Regions from separate parts of the Homo sapiens genome. Here region 2 is linked to region 1. Evidence: fine-mapped expression QTL. A gene starts in region 1. The other region holds a variant in brackets. All regions are shown on one strand. Distances are from middle to middle.

Region 1 (4,225 bases):
CAGCATCCTGAATACCGACTACCTCTTCACTTGCTAAAGCAGCTAAACTGTGAAGCTCTAAGTGGTTTGGGTTTGTTGTTTAACCTTAGCGAGATCCTTTAACTGCAGCAATATTCAAGCCAGATATTTGGAAGCAAATGATATTTCCTCTTGCAGTGTCCACAAATCTGAATATTAGGGGCATGAAATTAGGCTTACCATCTGATTTGTAATTACAATTTTGGAATTCTCTGTTTTAGTTGCTGAGGCCTGAGTTTTCTGGCTCTTAAAGCATAGATCATTTCACCTGATGTTTTTGAAGCATCCTAAGTACAGTAGAGTAGAAAACTGATTTCTTTGTTAATTGTACACTGAATAATGCCTTTTAAAAATCAAAATAAAATTAACAAATAATGGTGAATGAAGTGAGATGAAAACTTGCTTAATTTTTGCCTTGATGAGGAGGGAGACAGATTTATCACTTAGCTTCTCAAGAGTTCCTTCTTCCTGCACAATTTTTAGAGCTTAAAACTGGTATAGCACTACTAATAAGGTCTAGCCCTATTTGCTGTCAGCAAAGTGGGACAAATCCAGGAAATGTTGATCACCTTTCACACCCACATGTATGATGAAACCACACCATTTGCCAATTGTATGGAAGACAACCAGATTCCATGACAATTTCCTGTTAGCACTGTGCTTGTAATCATAGCCAGTAGAAAAGCCCCTAGAGGAAAAGCGGCATGATATTCTGTTACTAACTACATGGAAGGATTGGAAAATGGAAACTGAAATAAGAGGGAGTGACAGACCCCCAAGTAGAAACCATGGAGTCACTCTGCCACAGCACTTCACTTAGGAAGGATTTGGTAATTACGAAATAGTGATTGATTGATTTCCCTTTTGGAATTAGCAAGCCAGAGCTATCACTAAGGGGAAATATCATAGAAAATATCTGATTGGTTCATAGAGTTGGCAAATAATCAGGAAGTGATGGAGCTTTTTAAAATTATTCCCTGGTTATTTAAAGAAGTTGAAAATCCTTTCACAAATCTTTATCCAGGAGAAGAAAATAAATTCTACCTGGACTTAATGCAGGGTTGTTTGAAAAGAAATTAAAAATTCATGATAAAGATAAGAAACATGTTAGCTTTAGAACAGAAAAAAAAAAAAGTGGGAACAGGTGGAGCTGAATTAAAGGTTAGGAAGTCAGGGAAAACCAATATGGAGAAAAAGACAAAGGTGCGATCTGTCCCAGAAGATAATGATGTGTTTGTGGTAAGTGGGGGATGTGGGGGAGGGTTGTTGAAAACCACCTGAGACTATTTAGAGTCCGACTTGAGGTTAAGGAGGGGGAGTTCATCGATCTCTTACCGCCCGGATCTGCAGCTCCACCACCACCTCCAGAGGCATCGTTCCCTGCGTGGGCGAAAGGACTGGAATGAGAAGATCCTTTTGTGCCGAGCCTTGGACCAATTTTTCTTAGTTTAGCTGAATACCTAGAGCAAATGTTCCCAGAAGCTTCCCCAGTCCCACGCCCTTGTTCCCCTACCGTCCCCCCCAGCCCAGGTCCCTCCCACCGGGACGGGTCTCTCACACTCGAAGCTGGAGTGCAGGCTTCCAGAAGGCGGAAGCGTGGCGTTGCCAGGGACACTCAAACGCGCAGTCTTCATCGTGGAACGCGCGCGAGGCCCCAGCGCAGACGCGCGCCCTCACGGTCGCTGTTGCCCACGCAGTGCCCCCAGCCGGAGAGACTGGCCCTGTCTGGCGTGCTAGACGGATAGAGAAATGCTAACAATCCCGATCTTCTTTCCATCAGCTCCTGCTATCCCCAATTACCATGTCAGAATGTTTACCGTTTTCATTCTGAAAGTAGAATGAGATCATAGGTCTGTTATAATTTAAATAGTACACGTTTAGTAGCTGCACGACCCCAAGCCTTGTAGTTTCTGTAACAATTCTCATTTAATATAGTTGCCTGTTCCTAAAAATACTCTTTTGCTTATTAAATGTTATGTTTGCTTCGGAAAACATGGCCACCGTCAATAACAAACGTGTGCTAATTAGAAATATAAGGTTAATTCTTAAACATATTTAAAAGTTAGGTATCCCCTGTTAGCAGCAATAGAAATATGTCAGTCTTTCCATAACGGTGTCCAGCCTTTTCTGGGGTTTAGTTTAAGGCAAGCATTGAGTAGTCCAATGGGTAGTTATTGCATTTGCCAAAACCACAGTTACTGTAAACACTGTCAGAGGTGGTGCGCAGAGCAAGAGTTCTGAATGAGTAGGGGACATTCACTACATCTAATAGAGAAAAATGAAGGAAAGGAGCAGGTAGTGGCTCCTTCTAGCAATCCAAAAAATCTAGGAAGGCCAATGCTGCCTCTGAAAAAAAAATTTTAAATCCTAAATTATGTTCAGTCATTTATTACTAATATTTTGCATTAGAGAGTTATACAATTGGAAATAGTGCAGAAGGATGGTCAAGACAAGATTGGGTATTCATTTTGGTAACTGGAGTTTATTTCCCTGGAAGGGAAAAACTTGGTATGATGAAGAAGGGCATATTGTATCCTTATCCAGTTCCTAGTGCTGTGTCTCTCTGCATATCAAGAGATACAGGTGGGCACCTAACTATCTATAGTGTCCAGATCATTGATTTGTCACTCACAACTTGCTGACACCCAGAGTGATGTGGGACAGGACCTGTGATGATCCTAACAGGTAGGTCACCAACACCAATGCTAAGAAATCAAGGAGAGTGACAAGCAAAACAAATTAATAAATAGCCAGAGTTGTATTGGGAGAGAAGAATCAGTCTTTACTGAGGATCTGCAAAGTGCTAGGCACATTGCGTATGCTAATTCATCTCAACCCTACAATAACTCTATCAGGGAGATATTATCCCTATTTTACAGATGCAGAATCTGAAGCTAGACAGCCTTTTACTAAAAGCCACAGACCTAATAAGGGAGCAGCCACATTTGAATCCAGGTGTGCCCTACCACATCACTGGGTCTGCAATATAGACATCCTGTTGATCTCTAGAGACACAATGTTCCATTCTATGCTCTTCTTAGTCTTAACTCTTGATCTAACTGGACTCTCCTTGCTTGGCTGCTAGGGCACAGCTCTCTTCTGGTTTCCCTCCAACTTTCTGGCTATTCTTTCTTTGTCTGTTTATCCTCCTCTGGCTAAGCAATGTTTCTAGGTCCTTTCCTTTCCTCACTCTATACCCTTTACTTAGAGTGTCATCCATTGCAGACATTGATTAACACATGTATACAGATTTACATACCCCACCAAGACCTCTCTTCTGCTGACAAGGTGGAATCTCAATATCATATCTTATGTCATACATATAAATATATATATCTCCTCTTTGTAGCGACTGCCATAATAGCAGTTTTACATTTGTTCCTGTGACTCTTGATTACTATTTGTCTCCTTAATCTGTAAACTCTGCATGGCTAAGCGTTTATACCCTAAATAGGATAGAAGATAATAAATATTTTTGAATATTAAATGCAGAGATGGTCAAGCCAATCTGTGGGGGTTAATGTACATGGATAAAGAGAGGTCCCATCACAATGGGTAAAAGAAATCTGCAGAATTAGAAAGGACCAGGCACAGCTACTTCTGCAAATCTGCTATGGTGATATTAAATGAGTTGATGGGGATACTTCACACTCTCCTAATTGTCCCCGCCATGGTTACCTGAGGCTCTCAGCTGCTGTGGAGATGTGGCAGTTGCTATACACACCCAGTCCCTCTCACTCATCTTGCAAAGTTATTTATCATTGAGGCTGTCCACCTCTGCCGGGGGCCAACAAAGCCTTTTAAGGATTGGACTGTCACCACTTCAAGAGAAAGCCTTTATTACCTGGGTAGGTACCTCTTGGTGGCAGCAAACAGATTTCAATGAACAACTGCTATTTCCAGAGAGTATCTGCAGTGCAGCTTGGCCAGCAGTGACATCAGCATTGCAGAAATGATACAGCAGCACATCCCGTTCACATCCTGGCCCCAGACAAGAAAATGAAACATGCCCCAAATGGGGATTTTCCAAAGAGTAAATTAACAAAGAACAAGAATATGACAGATAATTATGGCTGAGATTTTTTTTTAACTAAAAAAATTAATTATAAGACAAAAATCATAAATATTTCAAATAATAAGTGTATTCATATGAAAGGAAGAAACTATTAAAGAGACAGCACTAGTGGGAAGGGTATGGGAAAACACA
Region 2 (4,538 bases), 39 kb before region 1:
TCCCTTTTTTGCTTTTCCACCTGGTCTCTGTAGGCTCTGCCACTGGAAGGTGCTAGAGAAAGTGCAAGGCTGGAGGAGACACAGTGACTGGCTACTTCCAGTTTTGCATTCTATTCCTGTTAGCATCATTCCTGCAACCATTCTTCGCCTTAACAGCTGCAAATGGCTCCAGATTATAGCCTTTCCCCTATTATGCCAGGACTAGCCCCATTGCACTCCTCCAGACATATCAGCGGCAGCTGACCAGAGCCCCCTGTTCAGATTTGAGTCTAGACCCACAGGAACCTTCCTCCAAGCTCCTGTGGCACCAGCAGTGAGCAGTGCCCCTCCTTTGAGATCTGAGTTCCAGCTCATCCAAGTCCCACCTTCGAATTCCTGAAGAAGCATCCAGGAAAGCAGCCCTTCTCCAGAGGTCTGGGTCCCATTTCTGTTCAGTTTCTTCTTTAAGCTTCTGTGTTCTTGCTGAACCAACATCTTCCCTTTGTTTCCCCAGCCCTAGGGGTGGAAGCTGCTTCCTGCAGTTACTCTGTCATTTCAGTGTTCCCCTTTTATCTTTCAGTCTTTCTTTCAACCCCTGTTTAGCCATTTTTAAAAATTAAATCTTTCTGTTACAGTCACAAGTTTGGTGTGGTTTCCTGACTGGACCCTGGCTGATATATCAGTTAAGTGCTCAACAAAAGGAAAATGAATGGCCAGACAGATTACAGTACTTCCATACAATGGAATACTATGAAGCCATGAAAAATTGTCTGGCACAAGAGTACCTGAGGACATGAGAAAATGTTTATCATAAATTAAGTAAAAAAAAGAAGGGTACAAAATAATATGCAATGCAGCGTGATCTCAATCTTTTTTAAAAGTGTGATGTGTGTACAGAATATACTAAAAAAATTAATGCTGATCTCTAAATGGCAAGAATGAGACAGTTTTTTTTAAGTTTTGGGTCCTTTTTGCTTATTTATCTTTGTTTTCTAATTTTCTAACATAAAGTGATACTTTTGTTTTAAGGGAAAAAAAAACAGACAGTGTGGTGGCTCATGCCTGTAATCCCAACACGTAGGGAGGCTGAAGCAGAGGATCTCTTGAGGCCAGGAGTTCAAGAAAAAAAACAATAAAACTATTTGTTTAAAAAGTTAACACTGAAAGAAGGACCTAGGAAGTTAAAACAGCATTAAGATGGTAGAATGGAAGAGAAAGAAACACTGAAAAATTGCTATGAACACATCACAAATAAATTGGAGAGAAGAGAGGATAAATAAGGCAAAACTAAAAAGCAGATAATGCCTTCCTTAAAATTAATCATTGGTCTCCCATTATATGAGTTATTTAGCTAAGAGTTTTGATAGATTTGCACAGATTATTGGCCCTTCTTTCTCATTAAGTATTCTGTAACATACAGCCCACATTTTCAAGGTCTTTTCTAGGACCCTACATGAGATCTGGGATAAGCATTTTGTTTCACTTACAGGTTTTACTCTACCCTGTCCCAAAGTATTTGGAGAAGCTTCACAAACTACCTTTATTCCTTCTCCATCTTGTTCTAGAAAGGATTTTAAGTGGCAACAACATTATATGCAATAAGGTAAAAGCAAAACAGAAAGAAATTGGGGTGAGGGAGGCAGACACTAGGACTGAAGAAGCAAGTAAAATTGAGGTAGTACACATGGATGCCCTAAGACGCTTCACGCTTACCAAAGACGGACCATGAATACAATCCGAGCATCAGCCTCAGCAAAAGAAAGGTGGCCCCATGTTTACTGCAGCACTATTCACAATAGCCAAGATTTGGAATCAACCTAAGTGTCCATCA[A/G]CAGATGAATGGATAAAGAAATTATATTACATACACATAATGGAGTGCTATTCAGCCATTATTTTTTATGTCTTGCAACAACGTGGATGGAAGTTGAGGCCATTATATCAAGTGAAATAAGCCAGGCACAGAAAGACAAACTTTATATATTCTCACTTATTTGTGGGAGCTAAAGATTAAAACAATTGAACTCATGGAGACAGAGAGTAGAATGATGGTTACCAGAGGCTGGGAAGGGTCATGAGAGCTGAGGGGGAGTGGGGATGGTTAAAGGGCACAAAAAAAAAATACAAAGAATGAATAAGATCTAGTATTTGATAGAACAACAGGGTGACTATAGTCGATAATAATTTAACTGTAAATTTTAAAATAACTAAAAGAATATAATTGGATTGTTTGTAACTCAAAAGATAAATGTTTTAGGTGATGGATACACCATTTACCTTGATGTGATTATTACATACTGTATGCCTATATCAAAATATCTCATGTACCCCATAAATATATACAGGTACTACGTACCCATAAAAAATTAAAATTTCTAAATTTTTATTTTATGTTTATTATTTATTTATTTATCATTATTTTTTTCTGAGATGGAGTCTCACTCTTGTCACCCAGGCTGGAGTGCAGTGGAGCCATCTTGGCTCACTGCAGCCTTGACCTCCCAGGCTCAGGCGATTTGCATGCCTCAGCCTCCCCCGTAGCTGGGACTACAGGCGCACGCCACCATGCCCAGCTACTTTTTGTATTTTTGGTAGAGGTGGGGTTTCACCATGTTGCCCAGGCTTTTCTCTAACTCCTGACCTCAGGTGATCCACCTGCCTCGGCCTCCCAAAGTGCCACCATGCCCAGCCTAAAATTTTTAAATTTTTAAAAAAGAAAGATGGAAACTGTTGTTCATAAGATCACAAGTAAATGTCATAGAACAACAATAACAAAAGCTAATTAGCTCACTTACATCAAATTTGTAATTTTAGCTTCTGAATCACCCTGCTTCCAGCTACATCATGCTGCCAAACGTATGTACCAAACATACTCTAATATGACTGGCTGAGCAAACAGTTTGAATTATAGAAATACAAACCTAGTAAAAACTTTCCAGGTTTCTACTTGTTTAGTTTCATGTAAACTTAATAAACTGAGTTTGGGCAAAAATTCTTTAAATTTGAAAAAAAAAAATCCGGTCATTTCTATCACTAGATTTGTATTGTACTTACAAGAAATCTGTTTCTATGCAGAAACACACATTCTCTGATGGCTGTCCTTGTAGAAAACTCTATTTTGGGAGCAATGCCCTATAAAACAGCATAAAAAAAGCAAATAAAATTACTAGAAACAGTTCTTTAGCCATCTCCTTCTAACTTGAAATCATACAAGAACCTAACTGCTCTTCTGTGTGGCATAATCCACACACATTATCTAAAATATATATGTAATAAGAATAGCTAAACACTTATGTAATATATATTATGTATCAGAGCCAGGCCTAAGTAATTCATATATATTAACTCATCTAATCCTAACACAACCCCATGAAGCAGGTTTTATAATAGTATCTCCTCAACTAAGACACAGTTTAAGTAACATGTCCATCTAGTAATGAGGGCTATTAATTGAACCCAGGCATTCCGGCTCCAGTGTCCATGATGTTAGCTACTCTATTTAAAACACTGTACCATGGAATTGAATGAGATTACCTAGAGAGAGGTATGAATACAGAGCCTTCCTCTCTACCTACCTGCTTTGAAAAACTTGCTTTATATTTTATATCAGATATTTATATTCATTAGATCTAATTCCAAATTCATTTTGTTTCATTGATTTTTCTATTTCTATTTTTTGTTCTTAGTACCATACTGTCTAAAATATTGTGTTTTATATATGTGTGTGTGTGTGTATATATATATATATATATATATATATATGCCCTATCCTGTTTAATTCTTATAATCCTATAGGGTAGGTACAATTATTACAATCATCCTGTTTTACAGATGATAAAACTGAAAAATGGGCAAAAACTAGAAACAATCCAAACATCCTTAATGGGTGAACAGATGAACTGTGGTGTATTTACATAATGGAAACTACTCGGTAATAACAAGGAACAAATGAATGACACACACAACTACATGGATGGATCTCAACAGCATTCTTCTAAGTAAGAAAAGCCAGTCTCAAAAGGTTACAGACTGTATGATTCCATTTATGTGACATTCTCAAAAAAACAAAACTATGGTGATAGAGAAAAGACTAGTGCTCAGGGTGAGGGTGAGGAAGTGCCTATAAAGGGGTAACATGAGGGGGATTTTAGGAGGGATGGGATTGTTCTACATCCTGCTCGTAGCAGTGGTTTTACAAATCTATACATGTGTTAAAATTCATAGACCTGTAGACCAAAAAAGCATCAATTTTATTGTATAATAATTTTTAAAATACAACTGCTTTCCCCAAAAAACAGGCCTAAAGAGACATTAAGGCAATTTCCCCAAATTTACAAGGTTTATAAATGGCACCACAGGGACAGGACCTGGATCTGACTAAATTACACTGTCTCCACCTGACCCCATCGACTCACCAGTGGCCCCTCTGCATCACCTCTCTGCTCTACTCTCCCCCAGAGAACACCACCTGGCCAAGTTACTTCTTGCCCTGAGGGCATCTTCCTTCTTTTCTTTTCCATCCAAATTTTACCCATCTCTCAATGTCTGATCTCACTCTAACT

What was found. PIP is the estimated chance that this variant, and not a neighbour inherited with it, causes the effect.
Region 2: its variant is fine-mapped to the expression of SPATA6L in testis (GTEx, PIP above 0.99).

Annotation. Positions count from the first base shown.
Region 1 is chr9:4,664,859-4,669,083 of GRCh38, forward strand. SPATA6L (spermatogenesis associated 6 like) reads right to left here and starts at 1,622. Exons shown (of 12, transcript NM_001353486.2): 1 at 1,354-1,622. The coding sequence starts at 1,392. It overlaps PLPP6 (phospholipid phosphatase 6), which reads left to right. Exons shown (of 1, transcript NM_203453.5): 1 at 1-400. RefSeq lists silencers at 1,411-1,460, 1,471-1,550.
Region 2 is chr9:4,626,061-4,630,598 of GRCh38, forward strand. SPATA6L (spermatogenesis associated 6 like) reads right to left here. Exons shown (of 12, transcript NM_001353486.2): 5 at 3,031-3,108. Among named protein-coding and RNA genes, the nearest start is that of PLPP6, 34 kb to the right of the region's middle. The variant A/G (reference allele first, on the strand shown) is at 1,811.